2 separate regions of the Homo sapiens genome follow, and region 2 is linked to region 1. The links come from fine-mapping of genetic effects on gene expression. A gene starts in region 1. The other region holds a variant in brackets. All regions are shown on one strand. Distances are from middle to middle. Region 1 holds the start of COPS3 (COP9 signalosome subunit 3). Region 2 overlaps COPS3 (COP9 signalosome subunit 3).

Region 1 (16,494 bases):
TGAGTGACATCAAGACCCTATCTCAAGAAAGAACAGAGAGCATGCATGTTTTATACACACATAAACTCACATAAACATATATATCAGGTGAGTAATGGACATGAATGCATTTTGAAGGTATAAGGTGTTTACCGTTGTATATGTTAGATAAGGTATGGAAAGAACCCTGAGCTTCTGGCTGAGGACCCTGGTTTTGAATCTACATATTCTTCCAATTTTGAGTTGTGGGGCCCTGAGCTTCATATTTTTATTTATAAACTGGCAGTCGCAATGCCTCACTGACCTATTGTGAACCCCAGATGAAATTGTTTCTGACATGTCTTGATAATTACAAAGTGTAAATACAGATGTATGGTGACATTGTTAAGTCAAATAATACAGTATAGATGGAAGCAGATAAACCAAAAGATGTAGTAGAAATTATGATTAGCTTTTCTTTTTTTTTTTTTTGAGACAGAGTCTCACACTCTGTCACCCAGACTGGAGTGCAGTGGCGTTGTCTCAGCTCACTGCAACCTCCGCCTCCCAGGTTCAAGCCATTCTCCTGCCTCAGCCTCCCGAGTAGCTGGGACTACAGGTGCATGCCACCACACCCGGCTAATTTTTGTATTTTTAGTAGAGACAGGGTCTCACTATGTTGGCCAGGCTGGTCTTGAACTCCTGAACTTGTGATCCACCCGCCTTGGCCTCCCAAAGTGCCGGGATTACAGATGTAAGCCACTGTGTCTGGCCTAATTTTTCTTGAAATTACATTTCAATCGTGCTTTTTTTTTTTTTTAAAGAATTTGAAATTTACTTACAACCAATGCCTTAATAGTGCTAAGTTTACATGATTTCTCCCCTAAAACCTATCACCAGTGCCTCCTTGGAGTGTTTCTCATGGCAGTCTGAGTTACTTGGGAAGGATCACCTGAGTCCTCCCTCTTCTCACCACTCTACTCCTCTTGTCCTGCCTATCAGTTGTTCTGTCAGTGTTATTCTCAGATAGACCACACAGCTGGTGGCAGCATCTTTAACTTAAGCTGCTGCCCACCTCCAGCCAGCCCATAGCTCTCACTCTTGGCCCCCTTAGTATGTTCTCAAAGCAGGAAAAGCAACAACTGATTTTTTTTTTTTTTTTGAGAGAGTCTCCCTCTGTCGCCCAGGCTGGAGTGCAGTGGTGCAATCTTGGCTCACTGCAACCTCTGCCTTCCAGGCTCAAGCAATTCTCATGCCTCAGCCACCTGAGTAGCTGGGACTACAGGCATGCGCCAACACACCCGGCTAGTTTTTTTATTAGTAGAGACAGGGTTTCACCAGTTGGCCAGGCAGGTCTGGAGCTCCTGGCCCCAAGTGATCCACCTGCCTCTGCCTCCCAAAATGTTGGGATTAGAGGCGGGAGCCACTGTGCCCAGCTGCAACAACTGATTTTATTTTTTTGAGACAGTCTCGCTCTGTCACCCAGGCTAGAGTACAGTGGCGCGACCTTGGCTCACTGCAACCTCTTTATGCCCGGATACATAAAAGAGTTTTTAAAAATGATAAAGTTGAACAAAATATAACAAGCAATTATTAGCTGGAATCAATAAACTGTAACTGCCATAACTTTAGTTTTGCAAAAGAGCTCAATGTTATTTACAATGGTTTACTTTCTACACCAAAAAATAAATAAATAAATAAAAATAAAGCCAGGGCTGGGCGTGGTGGCTCACGCCTGTAATCCCAGCATTTTGGGAGGCCAAGGTGGGCGGACCAAGAGGTCAGGAGATCGAGATCATCCTGGCTAACATGGTGAAACCCTGTCTCTACTAAAAATACAAAAATTAGCTGGGGCGGGTGGCGAGTGCCTGTAGTCCCAGCTACTCAAGAGGCTGAGGCAAGAGAATGGAGTGAACCCGGGAGGCGGAGCTTGCAGTGTGCCAAGAATGTGCCACTGCACTCCAGCCTGGGTGACAGAGCGAAACTCCATCTCAAAAAATATAAATAAATAAATAAAAATAAAGCCAGGAAGTGCACAGTGTTCCATTTTAACAAGCACAGAACTATAAAAGAAGATGCTCCTTACAAAACAGCAAGGACGCCCAAGGAGTGTTCTTGTACATCCAGAGCCCCGAGCACAGTGTCCAGATGGGATAAGTTCTTCGCAAGGAGTTCCCCACTCTTGTTGATCAGTTCACAAAGCTGTGTCATTTGCCCTGGAAAACAGGAACAACACTATTGCATTTCAGCTACAGCACTAACCAAACTGATGGAACTCTAACCACAACTTTGTACTTCAGAGCCTGAAGTTCCCAAAATTGATTCTTAATCTCCTTCACTTCGGATGAGGATCCAGAAGGACCAGAGGAGTGAAACAACCTGTCCGTGGTCTCAAAACGAATTAGAGATTACACTGGACCTCCCACTTCTCTCTGACCCTGAATGTTTCACCTTTTTCTCTATTCTGTTTTCTAGTCTCCCAAGCCAGAAATGCACGTTACTATTAACAGCTCTCTGCATCCAAATGATTTAGTTTTACTTCCAAAGTCTCTCAGCTCCATTTCTTTCTCTCTCCCCTCTCTGCCCTAATTCAGATCCTCATCATTTTTTGTCTGGACTACATCTTTTTTTTTTTTTTAAGATGGAGTTTCACTGTGTCGCCCAGGCTGGAGTGCAGTGGCGCAATCTCGGTTCACTACAACCTCCGCCCTCCAAGTTCAAGCAATTCTCCTGCCTCAGCCTCCCAAATAGCTGGGATTACAGGCGCCTGCCACTGCACCTGGCTAATTTTTTTGTATTTTTAGTAGAGACGGGGGTTTCACCTTCTTGGCCAGGCTGGTCTTGAACTCCTGACCTCATGATCCACCGCGCCCAGCCTACATCATAAATCTTCTAAATGGTCTGCCTACTGTGATCTTTCTCTCCTCCAACCCGCACTCCATATTAGTACTGTCTGTTCTATAAACTGTGCATTCAATCAAGTTATTCCAATGACTTTAAGAAGTGCAAACGCCTCAGCCTGAACTAAGGCCCTTCAATAACTGGTCCCTGCTACCTTTCCAGCCTTATCTCCTGCTACTTCCCCTCACACACCTACTCTTCGATCACAGCAAGCTCAGAAAATCAACATTCTATCTTCTCTCCTCTTTATGCTTCTACACATGCTGTTCTCTGTCCTTCTCCCCCACATCCTCTGCTACCTGACTGAGCCTCATCCAGCATTCAGCAATCAACTTGTGGCGTCTCTAGACCCTCATCTCAGCTCCCTTCCCCATGGCTAAGCTGGGTATCTGCCCTCTCTGCCTCGCATGGGACTGTAGTGGTTAGGTATTTCAGTAAACTCAGGTGGAGGGATTGTCCCTTTCTCCAGCTCTAGAATACATCACCTGCTTAGCAGTTCATCAAGCAGCTACTTGTTGAATTAATCTCCTAATTGATCTATTTTTCCCCTATACTGCAATACTATGTTTGTTTTGTTTTGTTTTTTGAGACAGGGTCTCATTCTGTCGCTCAGGCTGCAGTGCAGTGGTGTGATCACAGCTCAACGCAGCCTCCATCTCCTGGGCTCAAGCAATCCTCCCACCTTAGCCTCCCGAGTAGCTGGAACTACAGGTGTACGTCACCATGCCCATCTTATTTTTTAAGTTTTTTGCAGAGACAGGGGTCTCACTATGTTGCCCAGTCTGGTCTCTAACTCCTGGGCTCAAGCAATCCTCCCACCTTGGCCTCCCAAAGTGCTGGGATTAGAGGCATGAGCCACCACACTCAGCCTGCAATGCTACATTTTAACAACTAAGGTACAGAATCTATTAATAATTAGGCCTCAGCCGGGTGCTGTGGCTCACACCTGTAATCCCAGCACTTTGGGAGGATAAGGTGGGCAGATCTCTCGAGGTCAGGAGTTCAAGACCAGGCTGGCTCACACCTGTAATCCCAGCACTTTGGGAGGATAAGGTGGGCAGATATCTCGAGGTCAGGAGTTCAAGACCAGGCTGGCCAACATGGTGAAACCCTGTCTCCACTAAAAATACAAAAATTAGCTGGGTGTGGTGGCACACACCTGTAATCCCAGCTACTCGGGAGGCTGAGGTGGGAGAATCCTTTAACCTGGGACAATCCTTGAACCCGGGAGATGGAGGCTGCAGTGAGCTGAGATTGCGCCACTGTACTCCAGCCTGGGCAACAGAGCAAGACTCCGTTTCGGGGGAAAAAAAAAATTAGGCCTGAATTGGTACCTTTAAGTAGACCCATCAATTTTGACAATTACTGTCATGACAGATACCATGGTCACACTCTGTCTTTCTGGTAACAGTGAGGATATATTTAAGTCCATGGGCATTAACCTCAAGTTTCCAACTTCTCTATTTCTACAGAGCAACTGCATAATCTTTTCCTTACTAAAAGAATACAACATAGTATAATGCTTAAAATACAAGTGACTATAGCTAGGTACTTTTGATAATTTAACACTTTTCAATTTGATACATTTTACTGAAAGCAAAGGAAATGTATCATTATTATACATGCATTACAAAACAAGAATAAAACAGCTGTGATCTTATTAGGTGTCACCTCTTGAGATCACACAGATTTAACTGGGAAATACCAACTCATCATCATTGTATTACAGATCTCACTGGTAGGTATGAAGTAACTTCTAGTTGAATAATTTGCCTTTGTAAACCATTACTCTAAATATATTAACAATAATTTGTAACACCCAGAAATAAGCATTGCAATCCATTAGTTCTCTACTAGTTAACAATCAGTGCCCAGTTGAGACTGAAATAAAAGCTGGGTCACTATGAAATCACCAGATAATTAATTAGTGCAGGGCCAAGGGCAGAGTAAAAAAAAAAAGTTTAAGTGTCACAGAGTGCATTTGAAATCAGTGTAACCAGAGATGTGGCCAATAAAATTCTTTTTTTTCTTTTTTTTTTTTTTGAGACGGAGTCTTGCTCTGTCACCCAGACTGGAGGGCAGTGGCGCGATCTTGGCTCACTGCAAGCTCCACCTCCCAGGTTCATGCCATTCTCCTGCCTCAGCCTCCCGAGTAGCTGAGATTACAGGCGCCCGCCACCATGCCTGGCTAATTTTGCATTTTTAGTAGAGACAGGGTTTCACCATGTTGGCCAGGGTGGTCTTGAACTCCTGACCTCAGATGATCCGCCCGCCTCGGCCTCCCAAAGTGCTGGAATTACAGGAGTGAGCCACTGCGCCTGGCCTGAAACTCAAAGATTTCCTATCCAGTGAGTGTGAGGCACAGTAGCCGACAGCAATGAAAGTTACCATATTTATCTCTGTCTAGCAGACTGTTCCTATAGCATCCTATAACCTGAAGACCACAACAGCCCTAGTTCTGTTTTGTAATTAAGAAAATTGGCCCAGGGAAATTAAGTGGTTCACCCAAGAAGTGACCGCGACAGGATTTCAACCTGAAGCTTCTAACTACACTACACCCCAGGAAGGAGAACACTAAGTATTTGTCGAATAAATTAACAAACCAGTGGTTCCTTTATTCATAGAAAAGGCAAGCCTGTGCCTTCCCTGTGAACCTCATTTCTATTAATAAAAAGGAAAAAGAGGAAGAATTCTTATTAAGTGCAGCTCCATATCAGACCATTTGTCTTACACCAGTGAGGTAAAAGCACCCCTCCATTTTTACAATGGAGATGCAAAAGACTCAGAGATTAAAGGTTATTTGTCCAAGGTCAAGCAGCTCCTAGAACTTTGCAATTAATGACGGTAACAATAATTTGCAGCTATATTTATTGCACCCCTTATGACAGGCACTGTTCCAACTGCTTTTACATGGTTTCTCTCATTGAATCTTCACAACTCTACATAAACTAGGGACTTATTTTGCAGACGAAGAAACTGAAGCACGGGATAGTTAAAAGGGCCTTCACAGCCAGCATCTAATCATTCGAATTTCAGGTCCAGAATTCGGTACATTCATACGCAATGAATGAACCAAACAACCTGGAAAGTGCGAGTAAAATCATCACAATTCTACCCCTAGAAATGGAGTCCTGGCCGGGCGCAGTGGCTCACGCCTGTAATCCTAGCACTTTGGGAGGCCGAGGTGGGCGGATCACTTCAGGTGAGGAGTTCGAAACCAGCTTGGCCAACATGGTAAAAACCCCATCTCTATTAAAAATACGAAAAAATTAGCCGCGTGGGCTGGCCGCGGTGGCTCATGCCTGTAATCCCAGCACTTTGGGAGGCCGAGGCCAGTGGATCACCTGAGATCAAGGTTCGAGACCAGCCAGGCCAACATGGTGAAACCCTGTCTCTACTAAAAATACAAAAATTAGCCGGGCAGGCGCCTGTAATCCCAGCTACTCGGGAGGCTGAGACAGGAGAATCGCTTGAACCTCGAAGGCGAAGGTTGAGGTGAGCCGAGACCGCGCCACTGCACTCCAGCCTGGGAGACAGTGAGACTCCGTCTCAAAAAAAAAAAAAGCCGTGTGAGCTGGCGGGCGCCTGTAATCTCAGCTACTCGGGAGGCTGAGACAGGAGAATCGCTTGAAGCCGGGAGGCTGAGGTTGCAGTGAGCCGAGATCGCGCCACTGCACTCCAGCCTCGGCTAAAAAAAAACAAAGAAGAAGAAATGGAGTCCTACGAGCGAGAGCTTCCGCAGCATTCTGTAGGACCAAAATAGGCGCACAGGTTCCCGAGCGTGCGCCGCCTGGCAGCGGAGGAGCTGGCAGAGGCGAGCCATAGAGCCAAGACACCCAGAACGGACTCGCCTCCCGCCCGCTCCCGGCGGCCTAGTCAGCAAGCTGCGGATCGGCGGCAAAGATGACATGGCGGTGCGCCAATCACCGAAGGCAAGAGAGACAGAAGGAACCAATAGTCGCCCGAGATGGCTCCTGGCGGAAGTCACGCCCCCAAACTGTCAAGCAAAGCGCCCGGTGGAAGGGGCCCAGGCCGGGGGGAGGGGGCTCCCGGCGGCCCGAGGGAGGGGAGGCCGGCCGGCGAGGACAGCGGAGCGCGAGGGGGCTGCCTACACTCGGCCGCGCTCGATCCTGCCCTGATCTAAACGCCGCAACCCCAAGCCCGGCCCCGGAGAAGAGTCTCAGGACTAAAAGGGCTGTTCCAGCCGTCCGTGCTGGCGCCTGGGGATCCAGGCCAGTTCCCGGTACCCGCCCATGCCCAGCCCGGCGGCCTAGGGCGTTACCTTGAGCTGAGAGCTGTCGGACACTGTTCACGAACTGCTCCAGGGCAGACGCCATGTTTTCCCCCGGGCGGCCCGAGCGGCGAAGGCAGCACGCGCGGGAAAAGGCTGCCGCTCTGGGAGGAGGGGCCGCGGCGATCCACCTGAGGTCCTCGCGAGCGGCGACGTCACTTCCGCTGGTTCAAGCACCGCGAGACTATACCTAGCTGCCCACCCGTTACTGTTTCCATGGAAACAGCCTGAATTCGCCGTAGCCGGAAATTAGTGTTCCATAGTCCCCTGCATCTTTATTCACTGCACTTCTGAAATCCCTCCGCAGGTTAAATGGGGATAGTGGGCAAAAGAAGGAAGGAAACTCATAATTAAGCAAGTATTTTCTGGTTCTGGATTTTGCTAGAGAGGCCCTGCGGTTTTCCACCTGGACAGATACTTCAATGAAGCACAACTTCGTTGCCACGTCTCCCGTGAGGTTTTCCCCGTGATATTAGACTCTGGAGCCAAGCAGCCTGGGTTCAACTGCCTTTTCTACCACTTAGTAGCTGTGTGACGTTGAGCGGGTCACTTGACTGTCGTGTGCATTGTTTTCCCCATCTGTAAAATCTTAGTGTCCTTAACCACGTAAAACACTTAGGACAGTGCATAGGACGTAGGGAGAACTATAGTTATTCATTCAAGGTGTACGTTGAATGAATCGATCCCTTCCCTGCAAAAAATAAATAAATAAGTAACACCACACACAGAAAGTGAATTGATTTTTCCCATCTGGGATTGATGTCTCCCTCCTCCGCTTGTCGCCTAAAGCACTTTGTTCTTCTCATGTTGCACTTCTACTCTGTTACAGAAATGTGTCTCTATAGTCCATGTGATATCTGTAAACCAAAAATAAAAGTCTAAGCCCCCCAACTGACTGGTGGACCCTATCTGAAGCCAAGGACATTCCAATTTATCCTGAAAAACTAGTTCAGGCCATGATGGGAAGTGGTAGTCAGACATGCCTCACAAACATCAACACAGAGACCTTAAGACTGGTAGACTCAAGACTGATAAGAAATATTTACAATCTATTCTGTCTGAATAGCAGGCTACCTGGAAGCCTCATCTGCATGATAAAACCTTGGTCTCCACAACCCCTTATAATCATAACCCAGATATTTCTTTCTATTTACTTCCAGGTCTTTAGATAATAACTCTTTCAACCAATTACCAATCAAAAAATCTTTAAGTCTACCTATAAGGTAGAAGCCCCCCACTGCCCCGAGTTAGCCCGTCTTTCCGATCCTAACCAACGTACATCTTACATGTATTGATCGATGACTCATGTCTCCCTAAAATGTATAAAACCAAACTGTACCCGCACCTTGGGCACATGTCCTGAGGAGCTCCTGAGGCCGTGTTATCATCGCATCCTTCACCTTGGCAATATAAACTTTCTCGATTGAGACTGGTCTCAGATACTTTTGGTTTACGGATCCATTGCTTCTAACTGGCATGGAGTTCCTTAAGGTCAAGCATTTCTCTTACTAACCTTGGTTCCCCTTTAGGGCCCAGCATAGGATTTGCTGCATAGTAGGGACTGAGAAAATAAACATGCATTTTAAAATTTTATCCAACATATGTTTACTGACACTTACAATGTGTTGTACCAGGCACTAGAAATACAGTGGTAGTAAAAACAGTCTTGGGGCCTGGTGCAGTCTCTCACGCTTGTAATCCAGCACTTTGGGAGACTGAAGCAAGTGGATCACTTGAGGTCAGGGGTTGGACACCAGCCTGGCCAACATGGTGAAAAGCCATCTCTACTAAAAATACTACAAAAATTAGCTGGGCTTGGTGATGGGTACCTGTAGTCCCAACTACTCGGGAGGCTGAGATGGGAAAACCTCTTGAACCCGGGAAGTGGAGGTTGCAGTGAGCCGAGATGGCACCACTGCACTCCAGCATGGGCGACAGAGCAAGAATCTGACTCAAACAAAACAAAACAAAACAAAACAGTTTCGGTCCTTCTCTCCTGCAGACAACACATGAAGACCCTAGATAAAAGGAGTTAGTGGTCTGAAGGAATGGAACATGGTTCTATAAAATCATGTCACAGAGGAGATTGACCTGGCTTGGGAGAAACAGGGAAGGCTTTCTTGAGGAAATGGCATAAACTGAGCAACGAAGAAAGAGGAAGAGTTAATAAGATAAGGGGGAAGGAATATTTCTGAGTGAGAGGACAGTATGGTGCTAAGACCCTGCAAGTGAAAGGAGCATGCTAGTTGAGAATGAAGAACTGAAAGAATGTCCTTGTGGTTGGAGGGGAGTAGTTTGTAAGGTGGACAGGGGCCAGGTCATGTAAGCTGTGTTAAAGGTACTGGACTTTTTCCTGAGAAGATTGGGAGGACTGGAGAGTTTTATGCAAGCGGTGGCAGGATCAAATTTGCGTTTTAGGACCGGGCGTGGTGGCTCACGCCTGTAATCCCAGCACTTTGAGAGGCTGAGGTGGGTGGATCACGAGGTCAGGAGTTCAAGAGCAGCCTGGCCAGAAAGATGAAATCCTGTCTCTAGTAAAAATACAAAAAATAGCCGGGTGTGGTGGCGTGTGCTTGTAATCCCAGCTACTCAGGAGCTGAGGCAGGAGAATCGCTTGAACCAGGGAGGTGGAGGTTGCAGTGAGCTGAGATCAGGCCACTGCACTCCAGACTGGACAATAAAAAGAGACTCAACTTCAAAAAACAAAACAACAACAACAAAAATTGCATTTTAAAAAGATTTGTCTGGCTTCACATGGATAACTTGGGAGACAGGAAGCTATTGCAATAGTCAACATAAAATAGAATAGTAATAATTATACTTTAAATAATTATACCTTGAATGCTAATAGTTTTACTCTTACCAGGAGTTCGAGACCAGCCTAGACAACACAGCGTGACTTTGTCTCTACAAAAAAAATTTTAAAAACTAGCTGGTTGTGGTGGTGCATGCCTATTGTCTCAGCTACTCTGGAGGCAGAGGTGGGAGGACCACTTAAGCCCAGGAATTTAAGGCTGCAATGAGCTATGATCTCGCCACTGCACCCCAGCCTGGGTGACAGAGTAAGACCCTGTTTCTTTCAAATAAATAGTAATAATAATAGTTCTTTCGAAAGTGTAGATAAATTCACCAGGATAAATTGGTGAACTTGAGACATGTTTAGATGAATGACTGTAGCACTTGTACTCTAAGATGGAAATGCTCCTGAATGTTCTATGGAAGCAATTGGTCCTTAATCTTTGATCATTTGCAACACACAAGACAGACATTTTGACTTATGGGACACATTTCCATGGATATACATGGATTTTGGTGAAAGCCAAAAATGTTGAAGATAAGTAAAGCACTACAATAATTCAAAGTAGCCACAGCTACTAATAATACTTTGATTGTTTATTTATTATTGCCTATTTAGGTTGTGGCAGCTGCTCTCAAACTGTGACTCCACCAATCAGCAGCGTCAGCGTCATTTGGGATCTTCTTGGAAATGCACATTCTTGGACCCCACTGTAGACTTCCTATATCAAGAGCTCTGAAACTGGGCACGGACCCTCACGCCTATATAAAAATTAGCCAGGCGGTAGTGGTGCACACCTGTAATCCCAGCTACTTGGGAGTCTGAGGCAGGAGAATCGCTTGAGCCTGGGAGGTGGGGGTTGTGGTGAGCTGAAATCATGCCACTGCGCTCCAGTCTCGGTGAGAGAGTGAGACCCTGTCTCGAAAAAAAAAAAACGGTGATTTCCAGAAATCTGAGCTTAACAAGCCTGCAGGTAATTCTGATGGTGCTAAATTCTGAGAGCATCTGGACCGTGGCCTCCAGATGAGCCAGCATGCAAATAACATTTCAAAACAGCTAAAAGCTAAATTCAAAACAGCTAAATTCCACCCTTCTCTTTCCTCTCAAAAACAAATGACTGAAAGAGACGTGATTATAGGGATAAACCTGAATATATTCTAACTTGTTTTTTTTTTTTTTTTTTTTTTTTTTGAGACGGAGTCTCACTCTTTCGCCCAGGCTGGACTGCAGTGGCGCTATCTTGGCTCACTGCAAGCTCTGCCTCCCGGGTTCACGCCATCCTGCTGCCTCAGCCTCCCAAGTAGCTGGGACTACAGGCGCCTGCCACCACACTCGACTAATTTTTTGTATTTTTATTAGAGACGGGGTTTCACCGTGTTAGCCAGGATGGTCTCGATCTCCTGACCTCATGATCTGCCTGCCTCGGCCTCCCAAAGTGCTGGGATTACAGGCGTGAGCCACCGTGCCCGGCCTTGTTTTGTTTTTTTATACAGAGTCTCGCTGTCACCCAGGCTGGAGTGCAGTGGAGTGATCTTGGCTCATCTCAATCTCTACCTTCCAGGTTCAAGTGATTCTCCTGCCTCAGCCTCCCAAGTAGCTGGGATTACAGGTGTGTGCCACCATGCCTGGCTAATTTTTGTATTTTTAGTAGAGATGGGGTTTCACCATGTTGGCCAGGCTGGTCTCAAACTCCTGAGCTCAGGTGATCCGCCCACCTCGGCCTCCCAAAGTGCTGGAATTACAGGGATGAGCCACTGTGCCTGGCCTCTAACTCGTATTTTTTTTTTCTTTTGAGATGGAGTCTCGTTCTGTCGCCCAGGCTGGAGTGCAGTGGCGCAATCTGGGCTCACTGCAAGCTCCGCCTCCTGGGTTCATGTCATTCTCCTGCCTCAGCCTCCCGAGTAGCTGGGACTACAGGTCCCCCCTACCATGCCTGGCTAATTTTTTTTTTTGTATTTTTAGTAGAGACGGGGTTTCACTGTGTTAGATAAGATGGTCTCGATCTCCTGACCTCGTGATCCACCTGCCTCAGCCTCCCAAAGTGCTGGTATTACAGGCGTAAGCCACCGGGCCCAGCCCTCTCACCTGTAGTTTTTTTTAAGCCAGAATTTTGTAAAATCTGGCAATTACTTGAGAATGCCTCACAAGGAAGGATGGCTCAGCAGTGGGTGGATATGATACATTTAATCTTTTGTTCTTTTATTCTTTGAACACACATTTACTTTGTATCAAATATGTGTCAAGGCTTTGCCAGATGCTGGGAATATGTCTGTGAACAAGACAGAATGTCCCGGGTCACATGAAGTTCTGGTTTGGAGAGTAAAACAATAAGCAAGCAAATACATAATTTGGATAGTAATATGTGTTATGAAGAAAATAAAGCATGGCGATGGGGGTATAGGAAGGTCAGGAAATGCTTCTTTGAGCCCTCAAGGATGAGAAAGAGCCAGTTAAGAGAGATGTGGGGCCAGAGTTGGAGACAGAGGGATATGCATGGTGGGCAAAGGTCTTAAAATCCAAACAAGCTTGGTGTGTTTCAGGAAAAGAAAAAAATGCCAGTGCAGCTAGAATATAGGGAGTGAGGAGGATCCTGGTATGTCTCCCTTGAGAAATGCTTGTCTATAGCAATCTCAGATTTGTCCAGATTTTCAAATGCAAAACATTTTCGGATTCAGTAATGTCTACAAATTTTTTCAAGTGATAACTTGTAAAAAAGGAATAGTAGATAGCACTTGGGGAGGGGCAGGAACAGTGTCAGGCACTGTTGTAAACACCTTCCACATTCTCCATTTCTATTTATTTATTTATTTATTTTGAGATGGAGTCTTGCTCTGTCACCCAGGCTGGAGTGCAGTGGCACGATCTTGGCTCACTGCAACCTCCACCTCCCTGGTTCAAGCAATTCCCCTGCCTCAGCCTCCTAAGTAGCTGGGATTACAGGCACACACCACCATGCCTGGCTAATTTCTTTTTTTATTTTTAGTAGAGACGGGGTTTCACCATGTTGGCCAGACTGGTCTCAAACTCCTGACTGCAGTCAGTCTGCCCACCTCGGCCTCCCAAAGTGCTGGGATTACAGGTGTGAGTCACCATGCCCAGCCAATTTTTTTTTTTTTTTTTTTTTTTTTTTTTGAGACGGAGGCTTGTTCTGTCGCCCAGGCTGGAGTGCAGTGGCGCGATCTCGGCTCACTGCAAGCTCCGCCTCTTGGGTTCACGCCATTCTCCTGCCTCAGCCTCCCGAGTAGTTGGGACTACAGGCGCCCGCCACCAAGCCCGGCTAATTTTTTTTGCATTTTTAGTAGAAACGGGGTTTCACCGTGTTAGCCAGGATGGTCTCGATCTCCTGACCTCGTGATCCGCCCGCCTTGGACTTCCCAAAGTGCTGGGATTACAGGCGTGAGCCACTGCGCCTAGCTGCCCAGCCAATTTTTGTATTTTTAGTAGAGACAGAGTTTTGCCATTTTGGCCAGGCTGGTCTCAAACTCCTGGCCTCAAGTGATCTGCCTGCCTCCGCCTCCCAAAGTGCTGGGATTACAGGTGTGAATTACCGTGCCTGGCTCTAGAGCAGTTTGTAGGCCTTGTCTCCACAATAATCCTTCCAGGCAGGTGCTATTGTAGAATCCTCCAGGCTTTTCACAAATATTCCATTTATTTTCCTTTCACACCCTTAGAATTTTGTTATCACTATGTGACTTTATTTGGCCACTGAAACACAAGTAGAAGTGGCATGTTTGACTTTTGGGTGGGAGCTTTAAGTGTCAGGGCACCAGGATAGGATGGGCAAGCCACCAACCACCCTTCTGAACCCACACTGGAAATGTGTATGTGTGTCTGTTTGTGTATATATATGTGTTTTATTTTATATATATTTGTGTATATATATACATGTTTTATTCTATATATATATTTGTTTTATTTTATATGTATATATATAAAGTAAAACAAATTACCCCCAAACATAGAAGCTTAACATTTTTTATTTCTCAGTTATTATGTCACAATTTCTGTGTTTCAGGAATTCTGCCATGGCTTAGCTGGCTGCCTCTCCCTCAAGGTCTCACACAAGACAGCAATTGGGTATTATCTAGGGCTGTGGTCTCATCAGAAAGCTCACTGGAAATAGTCTGTTTCCAAGTTCATTTACATGGTCGCTGGAATGATTCAGCTACTCATAGGCTGCTTGACTGAGGACCTCAGTTGCTTGCTGGCTATTGGCCAGGGGCCTTGCTCAGTTGCTTGCCACATGGGCTTCTCCATAAAGGAGCTCAGAACACGGCAGATGGATTCTCAGAGAAAGAGAAAATAGGAGAGGGGAGGAGTGGGGGAGGGGGAGGGGGAGGAGGATGCTGAAGGGGATGGGAAAGGGAAGAGAAGTAATGCTAAAGTCATAGGCTTTTTGTAACCTAATCTTGGAATTAATGTCCCATCCCTTTTGCCATAGTGTATCCATTAGAAGTGAGTTGCTAGGTGTAGCTGATACTCAAGAGCAGGGATGTTCCAACAGCGTGTCAGGAGGCAGGGTTTATTGGGAGTCATTTTATCTTATTTTTTGTTTTCTTTGTTTGTTTATTTATTTATTTATTTTTGAGATGGTGTCTCGCTCTGTCACCCAGGCTGGAGTGCAGTGGCACAATCTCGGCTCACTGTAACCTCCACCTCCCGGGTTCAAATGATTCTCCTGCCTTAGCTTCCTGAGTAGCTGGGACTACAGGTGCATGCCACCCTGCCTGGCTAATTTTTTTTTTTTTTTTGTATTTTTAGTAGAGACGGGGTTTCACCATATTAGCTAGGATGGTCTCGATCGCCTGACCTCATAATCCGCCCACCTCGGCCTCCCAAAGTGCTGGGATTACAGGCGTGAGCCACCATATTTATTTACAGAGTTTTTGCTTTTGTTGCCCAGGCTGGAGTGCGATGGAGCGATCTCGGCTCACCGCAACCTCTGCCTCCCAGGTTCAAGCGATTCTCTTGTCTCAGCCTCCCGAGTATCTGGGATTACAGGCATGCGCCACCACTCCCGGCTAATTTTGTATTTTTAGTAGAGATGGGGTTTCTCCATGTTGGTCAGGCTGGTCTCGAACTCCTGATCTCAGGTGATCTGCCCGCCTTGGCCTCCCAAAGTGCCAGGATTACAGGCATGAGCCCAGCTATTTCTTTATTTTGAGACTGAGTCTTGCTCTATCACCCAGGCTGGAGTGCAGTGGCACAATCTTGGCTCACTGCAACCTCTGCCTCCCAGGTTCAAGCGATTCTGGGAGCCATTTTAGAGGCCGCCTACCACAATGAGTAGGAAATAAACCATTGTTAAGGCACTGAGATTTTGGCATTGGTATTGCAACATAACCTAGCCTGTCATCTGACACAATGTTTATCTCCCATCCTTCAGAAACTGATGCTCAGAAAGATTAAGGGATTTGGCCAAAGATACACAGCCAGGTACTGGCAGCACTAGGATTAAAACTTATATCTGTCTGACTTCAGGCCCTGAGTTTTTTTTGTTTGTTTGTTTGTTCGTTTTAGACATAGTCTCACTCTGTCGCCCAGGCTGGAGTGCTGTGGCACCATCTCAGCTCATGAGCAGACTGTTCTTGAACACCTGACCTCAAGTGATGCACCCACCTCAGCCTCCCAAAGTGCTGGGATTACAGATGTGAGCCACCCTGCCTGGCCTCCAGGTCCTGAGCTTTTATTCACTATATGTATTGGGCGACTAGGAAACATGAGGATAGGAAAAGTATTCAATTTCAGTCCATGGGACAGTAGCAACCCTTCATAGCAGCTGTTGATAAAACGTGACACATTTTGATGTGGTAGGGCCTATTGACTGTGTGGGGTGAGAGGACGACAGACAAGGACGCACCCCACAATCTTGTAATCATTTCCTACAATACAGCCACATTCCCAGATATATTCATAATCATTCTTCTGTTAGCTTAGCAGGTCCATGTTTCCATCCACAGCCACGTGCGGAATCTGCTTCTTGAGAGGATGGATACATTCCAGCGACAATGTGTGTGAAGCCATTTGTCAACCCCTTCCTATGACTGTTGAGTCCCTCAAGGCCAGAGAGACTGCAACTTACCCAAGGTCACACAGCAACCAGTGGCAGAGGTAGGACTACATTGCCAGCGTTCCCATCCAAACCTCTTTTCATGACAGCATGTGGCAACCAAGCAGGTATCCACATCCTTCGTAGGCTAACAACACTGGTGCATCCATATGAGCAGCACATTACCCGCAGCTGGGAGGCCAAGCAAGAGCCCTTTTCCCTATTGTCTGGAGGATCTGCTATCCTTTCCTGCCACTTCCACCTTTTTTTTTTTTTTTTTTTTTGAGAGTCTCGCTCTGTCTCCCAGGCTGGAGTGCAGTGGCACGATCTCGGCTCACTGCAATGTCTGTCTCCTGAGTTCAAGTGATTCTTCTGCCTCAGCCTACTGAGTAGCTGGGATTATAGGCATAAGCCACTACACCCGGCTAATTTTTGTATTTTTAGTAGAGACGTGGTTTTACCATATTGGTCAGGCTGCTCTCAAACTCCTGACCTTGT
Region 2 (16,494 bases), 33 kb before region 1:
GTAGAGACGGGGTTTCACTGTGTTAGCCAGGATGCTCTCGATCTGCCTGCCTCGGCCTCCCAAAGTGCTGGGATTACAGGCGTGAGCCACTGCGCCCAGCCTAGCCCATGCACAGTTTCTAAGTTCAGGTTTTAGGTAATTAGACAATCAACTCTGCACATAAGGCATCCAGTCAGTTGCGAGGTATGAGTTATTAGTGGTTCAATAAAGGCCATTAGGATTAATTTAATATTTCTTACCATAGCAATTTCTGTAAGCTTTTAAAAATTAACCTCTCTCCACTAATTAGAATTCATCTGCTATGCCTTTTGTGTTTTAATCTACTACTAGGTGCCTATTAAATACCATGTGTTGACATTTTCGTCTAACAATCAACTATAGAGCCAGCCTATGGATTCAGACTTATTAAATGCTTTTTGCAATTAAAGTTCTCTGATTTCAGCCTTTGATGTTAGGAAAGGATACAGATAGGATTTTCTTTGTTCACTATCATTAAGTAATTCAGTTACTTAAAAAGATAGCCATCACATTTTCTTATTCACAGATACCTGATTTACCTAGTCATTTATTTTCTCTGGCCCCTTTGCAACTGCTCAGACTTAGGTCCAAATAACATAACCTTCCACAAAGTGGGTACCAATTCAGGTTGGAACCCAGAAACTTAGGACTTACAAACCCAAAACTTCATATTTTGTTTTGTGTTTTTTGTTTTGTTTTTTTTGAGATGGAGTCTCGCTCTGTCACCCAGGCTGGAGCGCAGTGGTGCGATCTTGGCTCACTGCAAGCTCCGCCTCCGGGATTCAAGTGATTCTTCTGCCTCAGCCTCCCGAGTAGCTGGGACTACAGGCAGGTGCCACTACGCCTGGCTAATTTTTCATATTTTTAGTAGAGACAGGGTTTTACCATGTTAGCTAGGATGGTTTCGATTTCCTGACGTCATGATCTGCCTGCATCGGCCTCCCAAACAAAGTCCTGGGATTACAGGCGTGAGCCACCGTGCCTGGCCGATCTGACGGTTTTTAAAATGGGAGTTTCCCTGCACAAGCTCTCTCTCTCTTTGCCTGCTGCCATTCGTGTAAGACGTGACTTGCCTCCCACCATGACTGTGAGGCCTCCCCAGCCACCTGGAACTGTAAGTCCATTAGGCCTCTTTCTTTTGTAAATTGTCCAGTCTCAGGTGTGTCTTTATCAGCAGTGCAAAAATGGACTAATACAGATGACATGGAGAAGATCTGGCACCACACCTTCTGCAGTGAGCTGCACGTGGCCCCAGAGGAGCACCTAGTGCTGCTGACCAAGGCCCCCCTGAACCCCAAGGTCAACAGAGAGAAGATAACTCAGATCATGTTTGAGACCTTTAACACCTGGGCCATGTACGTGGCCATCCAGGCCATGCTGTCCCTCTACACCTCTGGGCACACCACTGGCATTGTCCTGGACTCTGGAGATGGGGTCACCCACATGGTGCCCATCTACAAGGGCTATACCCTCCCCCATGGCATCCTGTGTCGACCTGGCTGGCCAGGACCTGACTACCCCATGAAAATCCTCACCAAGCTTGGCTACAGCTTGATCACCACGGCCGAGTGGGAGATCATGCATGACAAGGAGAAGCTGTGTTGCCCTTCGAGCAGGAGATGGCCACCGCCGCATCCTCCTCCTCCCTGGAGAATAGCTGTGAGGTGCCCATGGCCAGGTCATCGCCATTGGCAACAAGCAGTTCCAGTGTCTGGAGGCACTGTTCCAGCCTTCCTTCCTGGGCATGGAATGTTGCAGCATCCACAAGACCACCTTCAACTCCATCATGAAGTGTGATGTGGACATCTGCAAAGACTTATATGCCAACACGTGCTGTCTGGCGGCACCACCATGTACTGGGGCATCCTGACAGGATGCAGAAGGAGATCACTGCCCTGGTGCCCAGCACCACGAAGATCAAGATCATTGTGCCCCGCCCCAAGCACAGGTACTCAGTGTGGATCGGCAGTTCCATCCTGGCCTCACTGTCTACCTTCCAGCAGATGTGGATCAGCAAGCAGGAGTAAGATGAGTCAGGCCCCTCCATCATCCACCACAAACGCTTTTAAACGGACTGTGAGCCGATGAGTAGCATTTACTGCATGGGTTAATTCCAGAGTATAAATTTGCCCTTGGAGGCCGGGCGTGGTGGCTCACGCCTGTAATCCCAGCACTTTGGGAGGCCGAGGTGGGCAGATCACAAGGTCAGGAGATCAAGACCATCCTGGCTAGCACGGTGAAACCCCATCTCTACTAAAAATACAAAAAAATTAGCCGGGCGTGGTAGAGGGTGCCTGTAGTCCCAGCTACTCGGGAGGCTGAGGCAGAAGAATGGTGTGAACCTGAGAGGTGGAGCTTGCAGTGAGACAAGATTGTGCCACTGCACTCCAGCCTGGGCAACAGAGCGAAACTCCGTCTCAAAAGAAAAAAAAAAATTTGCCCCTGGCAAATGCATACACCTCATACTAGCCTCACGAAACTGGAATAAGCCTTTGAAAGAAGTTTGTCCTTAAGGTTTGTATCTGATATCAGCACTGGATTGTAAAACTTGTTGCTGATTTTGACCTTGTATTCAAGTTAACTGTTCTCCTTGGTATTTGTGTAATGCCCTATACATCTTTGATTTCAACCCTTAGTACGTGTGGCTTGGTCACTTCGTGGCTGAGGTAAGAACTGGCTTGTGGAAGACAGGTCAGTGGTTTGGTGAGTCTGTGTGGCCAGCAGTCTCCGATCTGTGCAGTGTATTAATGTGTCAGGGCAGAGTGTTCTGCTGTAGAGCCTGGTAAGGGCTCCTGAACCAATTGTTTCTGTCTTGCCGGTCTATCAGGGTTGGAAAAGTCCAAGCCATAGGACCAAGTTTCCTCTCTTAGCTGATGTTTTCATGCCAGAACACCATGAGCTGCTACTTGTCTTGAGTTGGAAGCAGTTCGTATTTCCACCTGTAAATGTATTCATCCCTTTAATTTATGTAGGGTTTTCTTGTACTCAATTCTCAATTCTTTGAGATGACAACACATTTTGTTTTTTTACTGTTATGTGAGAACATCAGGCCCCAGCAACACGTCATTGTGTAAGGAAAAATAAAAGTACTGCTGTAAAAGAAACAAAAAAAATCGGCTGGGTGCGGTGGCTTAACGCCTGTGAGCCCAGCACTTTGGGAGGCCAAGGTGGGTGGATTGCTTGAGGTCAGGAGTTTGAGCCTGGCCAGGCCAACATGGCAAAACCCTGTCTCTAGTAAAATGCAAAAGTTAGCTAGACGTGGTGGTGGGTGCCTGTAATCCCAGCTACTAGGGAGGCTGAGGCAGGAGAATTGCTTAAACCAGGAGGTGGAGGTTGCAGTGAGCTGAGATCACACCACTTCACTCCACCCTGGGCTACAGAGGAGACTCCATCTCAAAAAAAAAAATTCAGGAGTCTCACTGAGGTAGTAGCTACAGTGAGCAGATACCACCCCTTAAGGGTTGGGGAACAAAGGGAAAAGATTGGGA[C/T]GAATAGAATTTAAAATTCTGAAGGAGGGCACAGTGGGAAGATGGGGGAGGCCTGCCTCCTGGGCCCCTTTATCTCTAAGGGGCTGTGCTGAGGCTGATTCTAGGAGCATGGGGGAAACTGCACACTGGAAGCAGACTTGCCTGGACCATGCTGCTCAACAGAGGCAGATGCAGGGAGCCTGTCACTTTCTCCCCCGAGCTCTAATCCCCTTCTTGCTGGTTTGCAGAGGTCTAGCCCAAGAATCACAAAGCAGAACACAGAACAGGGGATTCAAAGCTGAAACGATTGTGACCAGCTCTCCCCTCAAACAGACTCAGGGTTTGCAGGTACTAGGACAAGGTTCTAAATAACATATCCCCTTTCAGTTCAAGTTTCCAAAAAATGCAGTTATTTTAATGAATCCACCTTGGGTAAAAAATTATAATAGCATCCACATCATTAGCAGCTCACAGTACTTTTCACTTATATAGTCACGACTGACAAGTACTAGCAGTTCACAGACACATTCTAAGTGATTTTGATTTCAGATCCAGATAATGAGAAGCTAATTGTTTTTTAAAAATAAAACAGGGTCTATAATTCATTACACAGATAAATGATCATTTCCCATTAAATATTTTGTTTCCTAAGTGCAGGTATACGTAAACAAGTGAAAGGGATGCAACCCACAAATAGTCCTAATTCAAGGGCTAGAGAATTTGACAGTTTAGTTGATAGGTCAGCAAACTATAGGCTTCAGGTCAGACCTAGCCTGCTGCCTACCTTTTTTTTTTTTTTTTTTTTTTGAGATGGAGTTTTGCTGTTGTCGCCCAGGCTGGAGTGCAATGGCATGATCTTGGCTCACCACAACCTCCACCTCCCGGGTTCAAGCGATTCTCCTGTCTCAGCCTCCTGAGTAGCTGAGATTACAGGCGCCTGCCACCACACCCAGCTAATGTTTGTATTTTTAGTAGAGACTGTTTCACCATGTTGGTCATGCTGGTCTCAAACTCCTGACCTCAGGTGATCCACCCGCCTTGGCCTCCCAAAGTGCTGGGATTACAGGCATGAGCCACCATGCCTGGCCACTGCCTACTTTTTATAAATAAAGTTTTACTACTAAAATGGCCACAGTTACAATAGGCCATATGACCTCCAAAGCCTAAGTGTGGACTCTATTAGGGTAACTTTTTATGTGACTCATGAGGTTTCTTTTCTTTTCTTTTTTTTTTAATAGAGTCTTGCTCTTGTCACCCAGGCTGGATTGCAGTGGCATGATCTTGGCTCACTGCAACCTCCACCTCCCGGGTTCAAGCGATTCTCCTGCCTCAGCCTCCTGAGTAGCTGAAATTACGGGCACCCACCACCATGCCCGGCTCATTTTTTGTATTTTTAGTAGAGATGGTGTTTCACCATATTGCCCAGGCTGGTCTCAAACTACTGACCCAGGTGATCACCTGCCTTGGCCTCCCAAAGTGCTGGGATTACAGGCGTAAGCCACTGCACACAGCTGAGGTTTCTTTTTTAAATAATGAAAATGTGCCTTACCAGACAACTTGAAACATTTTAAAAACTGAATGTTTGTAGTGAGAGAGATTTTTTTAAGGAACAAATTTGATGTGTTTTAACCTGACCACACTTTATTCTGCTCCACACCATTCCAGGGCTAAATCAGTAAATCCTAGTCCAAATTCCTGTGACAGGAGAGGCCCTGAACATAATCAAAATGCAACTATCAGTTTACCTGATATGCTTTGACAAGAAAAAGTGGGAAAGCCTGCCATTTGTCTCTTAAAAACTGTAAGTTGAGAGGGGGAGAAAAGCCATTTTCAAGACTACAAAAGTGTAGCACCCACTAAAGGTTGGAAAGTGCTTTTGACACCACCTGGACAACATGGCAAAACCCCATCTCTACAAAAAAAAAAAAAAAAAAAAAAGGCTGGCTGTGGTGGTGCTCGCCTGTAGTCCCAGCTACTTAGGAAGCTGAGGTAGGAGAATCAGCTGAGCCTGGGAAGTTTAGGTAAGCCATGATGGCACCATTGCACTGCAGCCTGGGTGACAGAGACCCTGTCTCTTAAAAAAAAAAAGAAAAAAAAGTGAAGCACCAATGGCATCTCATAATCCACAACTCATACTCTCACTAATATGCATGTTAATTTTAATTTTAAAAATTAGCTTATGCCTCAGGGACGCTCCTACCCTTTTTTTTTTTTGTAAACAGAGACAGGGTCTCACTATGTTGGCCAAGGTGGTCTGAATTCCTGGCCTCAAGCAATCCTGCCTCGGCCTCCCAAAGTGCTAGGATATTACAGGTGTGAGCCACTGTGTCTGTCTGGCCTTTCTTTTCTTTTATTTTCTGAAGACAATGATTACAACTTTTAGATTTTTTTGTAGATACAAATTTGTCAATAAATAAAAACCTTTCAGATCCAAATCTTCCAAAAATTCCTAAAATCCAGCTATTTCTGTTCACAATGAATGTGCTTATTAAAAACTTCAGAGGAGAAAAAAGTGATACAGAAGACACATTAATGTTCAAGCAACTTAAAACAAAAAGGTAGATTTAATGCAGTAACAATAATCTGAGGATAAATAAATCCACGACAGACTTTAAAGTTTGCAAATCTGTTTCCTTTCTTTGCAGAGAAAATGGTTTTCTGAAAGCACACAGGACTGAAGATGTCAAAACAAAACTTAATTTCTTAGTCTCCAGGTGACACAGGCTTGGTCCTCTCTGCTGCCCTCCGAACACTTGTCACTGGCCAAGATGGTAGTTTCTCTTGTTTAGCTCAGGATGGATGTTAGTTTCAAGAATAACTGGATGGTTTGTTTCCTGAATCATCTTCTTGTGAGCCCATACTCTGTAAAGGTAAAGTGAAGTTATGTATTTATGTTTGCTTTTATCAAGGGTTCCCCGGCAGCCCAATAAGCACACCAGTTGCCCTGTCCCTCCCAGAACAAAGCCCCCTGTGAACAAGGGCAGGCAATTCCAGGAACCACCCTAAGCATCCCTAAGTGTACTTCCAGGCCATCATTTGAAAATGCTCTCAACTAGTATTTCTCCATGACCGTACTGGTAAGGTTTTCAAGAAATATTTAATAACCTGAAACTTAGTTCCTGTGCCTGATGTGACAACACCCCTCCTTCTCCACCCAGCCTACTTCTTGTAATAAGGGAACCCTCATCACCTTTTGTACAAACTGAGGGTTCACTGTGATCTCCTGGTCCATGGCTTTCAGCCGCTCATCCAGCTCAATGCACTTCAGCATCTGCATGACAGGCACATTAGAAGGTGGTCAGCGGCGGGTTTAGGTCAGCTGCATCCTTTCTAACTTACACTGTTCACAAGGGTGCTATAGGTTCACAATCTCTTGATGTGAAACCCCTGGGGCCACATGGGTTTTGGAGCCAGAGTATTTTGGACTCAGAAAGCTAATACATCTATCATATAATACCAAATATCCCACCCAGCAGGATCTAGGCAAACCTCATAATCAAACACATAGTATCTTTTGCAGTGAAACGAGTATATTCATGCTGAGATAAATGAAGACTAGACACCATTTCAGGTGACATTTTGCCATTAAATTAATTACAAAAAAACATAGTTTTCTGAGATTTAATATTCAGTTCACTTCCCTGCTCAGAGGTAAGAAACACAGACCACCCACAAAACTCCCCCTTCAGCCCCCAGAATCAGAGGCAGCATGCCCTCAGGAGACACAGAGGTGACTGCTGCAGCTGTAGCCAGGCTGTTGCCTAAAGGGGACCGTCAGGGAGGGCTTTGCTCTTCTCCTCCAGCCACCCCGACTCTGCTTCTCACATAGGGAGAGATGTTTCCTAACCTCCCAACCTGGAACTCCACAGACATTTCAGCAAAAACATAAGGCTCTATGTTGTAGGTGGCAGCTGGGAATAGATAAAGTTATACTGGGCCCTTTAAGTGTTTTCACAGTTAAGGGAGGTTTTGATGAGTTAGCTGGGATATCTAACCCACCATTTATTTACAGCCATACAATCTGAGAGAGTTTTGTTTTTTTGAGACAGAGTCTCCCTCTGTTGCCCAGGCTGGAGTGCAGTGGCGCAATCTCAGCTTACTGTAACATCTGCCTCCCAGGTTCTAAGAGACTTTCCTGCCTCAGCCTCCAGAGTAGCTGGGATTACAGGCGTGCACCACCACACCCGGCTGATTTTTTATTTTTTTTAGTAGAGACGGGGTTTTGCCATGTTGGGCAGGCTGGTCTTGAACTCCTGACCTCAGCTGATCCACCCACTTCAGCCTCCCAAAGTGTTGGGATTACAGGCATGAGCCACCACACCCAGCCTGGAAGAGTTTTAAGCAGCCCATTCTGGGTTTCTTTTGTTGTTGTTGCTGCTTTTCTTGAGACAGAGTCTTGCTCTGTCACCCAAGGTGGAGGACAGTGGCACAATCTCGGCTCACTGTAACCCGTCTCCAGGGTTCAAGCAATTCTCCTTAAGCAGCCCATTTTGAAACTAACTTTCTAGTAACTAAGATGTTCACAGACTGGGAACTACCTGTACTTAAAACTAAAATTATCCTGGAACATAGGAGCAATTTTCAAATACATCTCAACCATCAATTAAAAAAATAAAAACCTGGCATTCATGTTTACCTCCTGATCAATGTTATGAAGCATGGCTGGGTTATTATATTTTTCAGGGTTATCATGGAAACTGACCATACCGTCCTTCTGGTTAATACTTGCAAAAATCTCACCATCTTCTATCTGCAGAAAGAAAAAAAAAAAAATCAGGAAAGCAGTTTAGACCTGAATGCTATATGAATAGTCATCCAGTATAATCACAGAAAAGCATGGAAGGCAACATGGATATAAATAAACTTGTATATTTTTAAGCGCCATCTGTTTATCCAAGTATTTATTAAATACCTACTATTTGCTAGGCACCATTATAGATGCTAAGAGGTGTAAAACTGATACACACAAAATCCCTGCCCTTGCATTTTTGTTATTGAGGTGAAGTCCACACAACATAATTAACCATTTTATTTATTTATTTATTTATTTATTTGAGATGGAGTCTCGCTGTCCCCCAGGCTGGAGTGCAGTGGTGCGTTCTTGGCTCACTGCAACCTCTACCTCCGGGGTTCAAGCAATTCTCCTGCCTCAGCCTCCCAAGTAACTGGGATTACAGGTGCCCGCCACCACACCAGGCTAATTTTTTTGTTGTTTTTTTTGAGATGGCGTTTCGCTCTTGTTGCCCAGGCTGGAGTGTAATGGCACAATCTCGGCTCACTGCAACCTCCGCCTCCTGAGTTCAAGCAATTCTCCTGCTTCAGCCTCCTAAGTAGCTAGCATTACAGGCATGCACCACCACGCCTGGCTAATTTTGTATTTTTAGTAGAGACAGGGTTTCTCCATGTTGGTCAGGCTGGTCTCCAACTCCCGACTTTAGGTGAGCCATCCGCCTCGGCTTCCCAAAGTGCTGGGATTACAGGCGTAAGCCACCGCGCCCAGCCATTTTTTTGTATTTTTAATAAACACGGGGTTTCACCATGTTGGCCAGGCTGGTTTCGAACTCTTAACCTCAAGTGATCTACCTGCCTCGGCCTCCCAAAATGCTGGGATTACAGGCATGGGCCACCACATCTGGCCTACCTTTTTAAAGTGAGCAATTAATTGGCATTTAATGCATTCTACAATGTTGTGCCACCACCATCTCTATCTAGTTCTGGAGCATTTTCGTCACCCCAGAAAGAGGCCCTAGGCCCATTAGCAGTCCCTCCCCATTCCCTCCTTCTCCTCCCAGCCCCTGGAAACCACCAATCTGTTCTTGTCTCGTATGGATTTGCCTTTTCTGGATATATGAATGGAATCATATACTATGTAATCTTTTGTGGTCTGGCTTCCCTTAGCATGATGTATTTGAGGTGCCCTTGCATTTTTCAACATCAGCTGCACTGAAATATAACTTACATCGCCTTTTTTTTTTTTTTTTTTGAGATGGGGTCTCGCTCTGTTGCCCAGGCTGGAGTGCAGTGGCTTGATCTCTGCTCACTGCAACCTCCACCTCCTGGGTTCAGGGGATTCTCCTGCCTCGGCCTCCTAAGTAGCTGGGACTACAGGTATGTGCCACGATGCCCAGCTAATTTTTTTTATTTTTAGTAGAGATGACGTTTTGCCATGTTGGCCAGGCTGGGCCACTGTATTTTAAAAAGTAAAGCCTAACACGTTTTCTTTTCATCCCAGTGGAAACTATCTTCCGATTCTTCAAGAAAACTTTACTACCACTGGGGATTCCAAGGTAGATTCAAGGTCTATATATTATTTATTTGCATCAGTTACTGGGGAATTATTTGACTGATCCTCAAAGCCAAATCCTGCCCATGAAGTTAAAAAGTGAGATACCAATAAAAGTACAAAACAGGTATTTTATTCCTAACAAGATGTTCCACACGGTGATAATAACTTGTCCATTTGTTAGCAGTGAAACTGCTGGCCTACTTGTCTCTAGCTTTGGAAGGGATAGATGCTATTTAGTGAAACAGTAACCAGCCCAATACATATTATACAAAATGCATAGTTCTCTATGTGATCACAGAGAGCTGCCTCTTTAAGCAGATGGAATGTATCTAAGCAAAATTTGGACCTACCTTCACCACAGCAGCACTATTCATAATAAATTAACCAGAACTGGAAACAACCCCAATGTCTAACTATTTATTTATTTACATTATTTGAGACAAGAGTCTTGCACTGTTGCCCAGGCTGGAGTGCAGTGGCGCAATCTCAGCTCACTGCAAGCTCCACCTCCCAGGTTCATGCCATTCTCCTGCCTCAGCCTCCCGAGTAGCTGGGACTACAGGCATCTGCCACCACGCCTGGCTAATTTTTTGTACTTTTAGTAGAGACGGGGTTTCACTATGTTAGCCAGGATGCTCTCGATCTCCTGACCTCATGATCTGCCCGCCTCAGCCTCCCAAAGTGCTGGAATTACAGGTGTGAGCCACCATACCCGGCCTATTTATTTATTTTTTTGGAGACGGAGTTTCGCTCTTGTCACCCAGGCTGGAGTGCAATGGTGTGATCTCCAGTCACTGCAACCTCCGCCTCCTGGGTTTGAGCGATTCTCCAGCCTCAGCCTCCCAAGTAGCTGGGATTACAGGCGCCCGCCATCATGCCTAGCTAATTTTTTTTGTATTTTTAGTAGAGACGGGGTTTCACCATGTTGGCCAGGCTGGTCTTGAACTCCTGACCTCAGGTGAGCTGCCTGCCTCAGCCTCCCAAAGTGCTGAGATTACAGGCACCACGCCCAGCCTGTCCAACTAATTAAAATGGAAAGGTGTATCAAACACTGGAACATTGTAGCCCTGAAAACGAATGAACTACGGCTACATACAGCATCATGCATGACTCTCACAATGCTGAGCCAAAAAACCAGATTCCCAGAAAGAATGTGCTGTGTGTTTCCTTCTACATCAAACTCAGAAACAAACAGAACTAAAATAGGATGTTAGAAGTCAGGATGGGAGGCCGGGCACGGTGGCTCATGCCTGTAATCCCAGCACTTTGGGAGGCCGAGGTCAGGAGATCAAGACCATCCTGGCTAACATGGTGAAACCCCGTCTCTACTAAAAATACAAAAAATTAGCCAGGCGTAGTGGTGGGCGCCTGTAGTCCCAGCTACTCGGGAGGCTGAGGCAGGAGAATGGCGTGAACCTGGGAGGTGGAGCTTGCAGTGAGCTGAGATCGCACCACTGCACTCCAGCCTGGGTGACAGAGCAAGACTCCGTCTCAAAAAAAAAAAGTCAGGATGGGAACAACCTTTCTAGAGAGGCACAGGGCTGGAAGCAGACACAAGGGATATTTTCCGGGTGCTGGTCATATTCTGTTCCTTCTTCTAGGTGTTGGAATCTTTGTGAAAATGTGTTTAGCCGTACACTTAAGTGTACTTTTCCAATGTTTACTTTAAAAAACAAACAAACAAAAAAAAACCCTGGTCTCACAGACCTTTCATTCCAGAAGGGTTTCTCAAGCCTGGCAGTCCTGACATTTGGGGGCAGATAACGCTTTGGTGTGTGGGCTGTCCAGGGTACAGATAACGCTTTGGTGTGTGGGCTGTCCTGGGTACAGATAACGCTTTGGTGTGTGGGCTGTCCTGGGTACAGATAACGCTTTGGTGTGTGGGCTGTCCTGGGCACTGCAGGACGTTTAGCAGCATCCCTGGCCCGTACCCATTAGACGCCAGTAGCACCCCCATCTGTGAAAACCAAAACTGCTTCCAGACGTTGCCTAATGTCTCCTGGCAGACAAAATCACCCTCAGAGGAGAACCACTGCTCCAGAGCCTGTCAGGGTGTCTGGGCTGGTTAAGCAGGGCTCAAAACTCACACCCACTTTGACCCCGCAACGCGTTGCTAGCTAGTATGTCCTGTCTGGTGTCATAACCACTCATGTATTTCTTCTCACTCGCCACTGAAGAGGGAATTTCTTGGGGAAAGCGTCTATAGCTTATTCTGTGTAACCCCTGTGGGGTTACCAAGATGCTCTTAGCAGACACAAGTCATAGAGGTATGGTTTTGTTTGGTGTGTGCATGTTTTGAATGGTAGGTTGAAGCAAAAAACCCTTTAGAACACTTGTAAATTCAACTATCAAAATGAAATACTCAGCTGGGTGCAGTGGCTGTATCCAGCTGTAATCCCAGCACTTTGGGAGGCCAAGGTGGGAAGGTCACTTGAGGCCAGAAATCTCAAGTTATGCCTGGCCAACATAAAGAGACCCTGCCTGTACAAAAAATTTAAAAATTAGCTGGGTGTGGTGGCACACATCTGTAGTCACAGCTACTTGGGAGGCTGAGGTGAGAGGATCATTTAAGCCTAGGCAGTCAAGGCTGCAGTGAGCCATGATTACGCCACTGCACTCCAGCCTGGGCAACACAGGAAGACCTTGTCTCAATCAATCAATCAATCAATCAAAATACTCCAAATTCTGAAATCATACAAGGGGTCATATGAAGCTTTGCCTGTCCTGAGCTAAGGACACAGGTTTTCAGTGAACTAAAACCAGATCAGAACTATGTACTTATGTAACTGAATAGGTAGGTAGATTACAATACATCAATGTGGTGGGTTATCATATAGTCATTTAAATGATGCTTATCCAAATCAGGAGTGGTTGCCTGGTTGGGGTGGGGCTGAGAGTGGGGAAATGCAACTGGCAGGTGATAAAGAGGGAGTGTCAGGGCACTGGTGCTATTTCATTTCCTAAGCTGGATGCTAAGTCCTGGGTGTGTGCTCTGGCCTCCTTTATGTCAGTGCTGCTTATGGACCAAAACCCTCAGTGACGGAAGAGGCTAAGTCAGAATGTCAGTCAATGATGTCGCTAAGCACACTGTGTAGTTCAGCAAACATTGTTCAGCAAGATTTCTTGCTGCAGCAGTTGCTTGATGTACGTACTGGCAAAAGCTTGTGATCTCATCACAGATAAGCAGAGGAAGTAGCCCTACCTTATACCTCTTTGTATACCAAAAATATTTCATGAGGGTTATGAGGTTTACAAAAATTCTGATAATGAAAATATGTAAATATAGCCGCCTGTAATACCAGCTACTCGGGAGGCTGAGACAGGAGAATTGTTTGAACCCTGGAGGTGGGGGTTGCAGTGAGCTAAGATCACACCACTGCACTCCAGCCTGGGCAACAAAGCGAGAGTCCGCCTCAAAATAAAATAAAAGAAAATAATAAGGAGTACAGGGCTGGGCACAGTGGCTCACGTATGTAATCCCAACAATTTGGGAGGCCTAGGAGGGCAGATTGAGCCTAGGAGTTCAAATCCAGCCTGGGCAACATGGAGAAACCCCATCTCTTCAAAAAAATACAAAAATTAGTCAGGCATGGTGACACATACATGCCTGTAGTCCCAGCTACTTGGGAGGCTGAGGTGGGTGGATTACTTAAACCCAGGGAATTGAGGCTGCAGTGAGCCGAGATTGCACCACTGCACACCAGCCTGGGCAACAAGATGAAGCCATCTCAAAAAAAAAAAAAAAGGAAGCACAAATAGGACGCAAGCCTGATGTGTATATCATATGAGCACACTAAAACTAGAAACTATAAGGAAACAGACCAAATTGTCAATAGTGGTAGACTTTGGAGGCTCCCCCCGCTTTTCTCCTTTTTAATATTTTCCACAATGAACATCTGTTACTCTTACAGTAACAAAAATCCAGTAATTAATTTTCAAAAAAATGAAAATCAAGGCCAGGCACGGTGGCTCATGCCTATAATCCCAGCACTTTGGGAGCCCGAGGCGGGCAGATCACGTGGTCAGGAGTTTGAGACCAGCCTGACCAACATGGTGAAACCCCATCTCTACTAAAAATACAAAAATTTAGCCGGGCATGGTGGCGCATGCCTGTAGTCCCAGCTCTCGGGAGGCTGAGGCAAGAGAATCACTTGAATCCGGGAGGTGGAGGTTGCAGTGAGCCAAGACTGTGCCACTACACTCCAGCCTGGTGACAGAGCGAGACTCCATCTCAAAAAGAAAAAAAAAAAAAAAAAAGAAAAAGAAAAAGAAAATCCACTTACCATGTGCAGAACGTATTTCTCTGCCTCCTGAGGTCCAGACAACTGCACACGACTTGCCATATCTTGTAATGATAGAGTTAAAAAGGTCTGAAAGTCAGAAGCAGAATTAGTCACAGGTAGGAACAACGAAGGAAGGACATTTTATTAAATGTGTACAGAGCGGCCAGGCGTGGTGGCTCATGTCTGTAATCCCAGCACTTTGGGAGGCTGAGGTGGGCAGATCATGAGGCCAGGAGATTGAGACCATCTTGGCTAACATGGTGAAACCCTGTCTCTACTAAAAATACAGAAAATTAGCTGGTATGGTGGTGCACGCCTGTAGTCCCAGCTACTTGGGAGGCTGAGACAGGAGAATCGCTTGAACCCAGGAGGCGGAGGTTGCAGTGAGTGGAGACTGAGCCACTGAACTCCAGCCTGGGTGACAAAGTGAGACTCTGTCTCAAAACAAAAAACAAAAAACAAAAAAAGAATTAGCCAGGCGTGGTGGCATGCGTCTGTAGTCCCAGCTACTTGGGAGGCTGAGACAAGAGAATCAGAGAATTGCTTGAACCCAGGAGGTGGAGGTTGCAGTGAGCTGAGACTGCGCCACTGCTCTCCAGCCTGGACGACAGAGCAAGACTCTATTTCAAAAAAAAAAGTGTACAGAGCTCTTCCCATTGATGTACAGAATAGATTTGTGTAGATGACTTAAAACTGATGGGCGAGGGGTGGTGGCTCACACCTGTAATCCCACCACTTTGGGAGGCCGAGGTGGGTGGATCAATTGAGGTCAAGAGTTCCAGACCAGCCTGGCCAACATGATGAAACTCCACCTCTACTAAAAACGCAAAAATTTGCCAGGCATGGTGGCAGGCACCTGTAATCCCAGCTGCTCAGGAGGCTGAGGCAGGATAATCGCTTAAACTTGGGAGGTGGAGGTTGCAGCAAGCCGAGATCGCGTGATTCACTCCAGCCTGGGCAACAGAGTGAGACTCCATCTCAAAATAAATAAATAAATAAATAAATAAATAAATAAATAAATAACTGATAGGCTGGGCACGGTGGCTCATGCCTGTAATCTCAGCACTTTGGGAGGCCCAGGCGAGTGGATCACGAGGTCAGGACATCGAGACCATCCTGGCTAACGTGGTGAAACCCTGTCTCTACTAAAAATACAAAAAAAAAAAAAAAATTAGCCGGGCGTGGTGGTGGGCACTTGTAGTCCCAGCTACTTGGGAGGCTGAGGCAGGAGAATGGCGTGAACCCAGGAGGTGGAGCTTGTTGTGAGCCAAGATCACGCCACTGCACTCCAGCCTGGGCAACTGAGCAAGACTCTGTCACAAAAAAAAATAAAAAAATAAAAACTGATGAACCCAGTGGTTTGTCAATTTCCTAGAGGAGTAATGAAAAATAATTTTATATATATATGTAAACTGAAAAGGAATCCAAGGTATGCACATCATTATGAAGATTTTCATCTTTTGAATTTTGTATTATAAATGTATAATCTATTAAATATAATTGAAAAAATAACATTCATCATTCAAAATTCAAAGTTAACATTTTTAAACAAATGGGGGAGTTAAATAAAAGAGGCTACACACTTGTGATGAGGGAAACCAGTGTTTACCACTGCTCTCTTGGGATCTGATGAAAATGACCCCTTTCAGAAACATATTAAAAGAGCTCTATTCTTAATGGCAGCTGGTAATATTTACAACAATGGCATTTTCAGAGCTGGGCATATTAAAACCCTCATCTTGAAAATTCCTTTTTTTTTTGAGATGGAGTCTTGCTCTGTTGCCCAGGCTAGAGTGCAGAGGCGCAATCACAGTTCATAGCAGTTCAAGGGAACCTCCTGTTTCAGCCTCCTGAGTAGCTGAGACTACAGGTGTGCACCACTGTGCCCAGCTAATTTTATTGTTTTATTTTTTGTAGAGATGAGATCTTACTTAGTTGCCCAGACTGGTTTCAAGCTCCTGGTTTCAACGTATCTTCCTGCCTCAGCTCCCCAAAGTGCTGGAAGTACAGGGGTAAGCCACTGTGCCTGGCCATAAATTCTTGATGAGCCAATAATTTTAAAACCTACATATACTTTAGTTCAGAGAATAGTACCCAAGAAATTGAAATTACTGCTAACTTTAAGAAGTACACAAGTAGTTTAACACAAACAAAGACTCAAAAGTCAACATTCTAGCCTGACCAACACAGTGGGATCCCATCTCTACAAAAAATGTAAAAGTAGGCCAGGCGCGGTGGCTCACACCTGTCATCTTAGCACTTTGGGAGGCCAAAGTGGGCAGATCACTTAAAGTCAGGAGTTTGAGACCAGCCTGGCCAACATGGCGAAACCCCGTGTCTACTAAAAATACAAAAATTAGCCAGGTGTGGTGGTGTGCACCTGTAGTCCCAGCTACTCAGGAGGTTGAGGCAGGAGAATCGCTTGAACCCAGGAGGCAGA

What was found. PIP is the estimated chance that this variant, and not a neighbour inherited with it, causes the effect.
Region 2: its variant is fine-mapped to the expression of COPS3 in whole blood (INTERVAL, PIP 0.94).

What each region holds. Positions count from the first base shown.
Region 1 is chr17:17,273,991-17,290,484 of GRCh38, forward strand. It overlaps COPS3 (COP9 signalosome subunit 3), which reads right to left and starts at 7,256. Exons shown (of 12, transcript NM_003653.4): 1 at 7,142-7,256; 2 at 2,045-2,174. The coding sequence starts at 7,196. RefSeq lists enhancers at 6,644-6,703, 7,354-7,453 and a silencer at 6,894-7,133.
Region 2 is chr17:17,240,805-17,257,298 of GRCh38, forward strand. COPS3 (COP9 signalosome subunit 3) reads right to left here. Exons shown (of 12, transcript NM_003653.4): 9 at 14,055-14,141; 10 at 8,122-8,235; 11 at 6,676-6,756; 12 at 5,812-6,347. The coding sequence ends at 6,294. It also overlaps the pseudogene ACTG1P24. Among named protein-coding and RNA genes, the nearest start is that of FLCN, 12 kb to the left of the region's middle. RefSeq lists a silencer at 10,386-10,488. The variant C/T (reference allele first, on the strand shown) is at 3,507.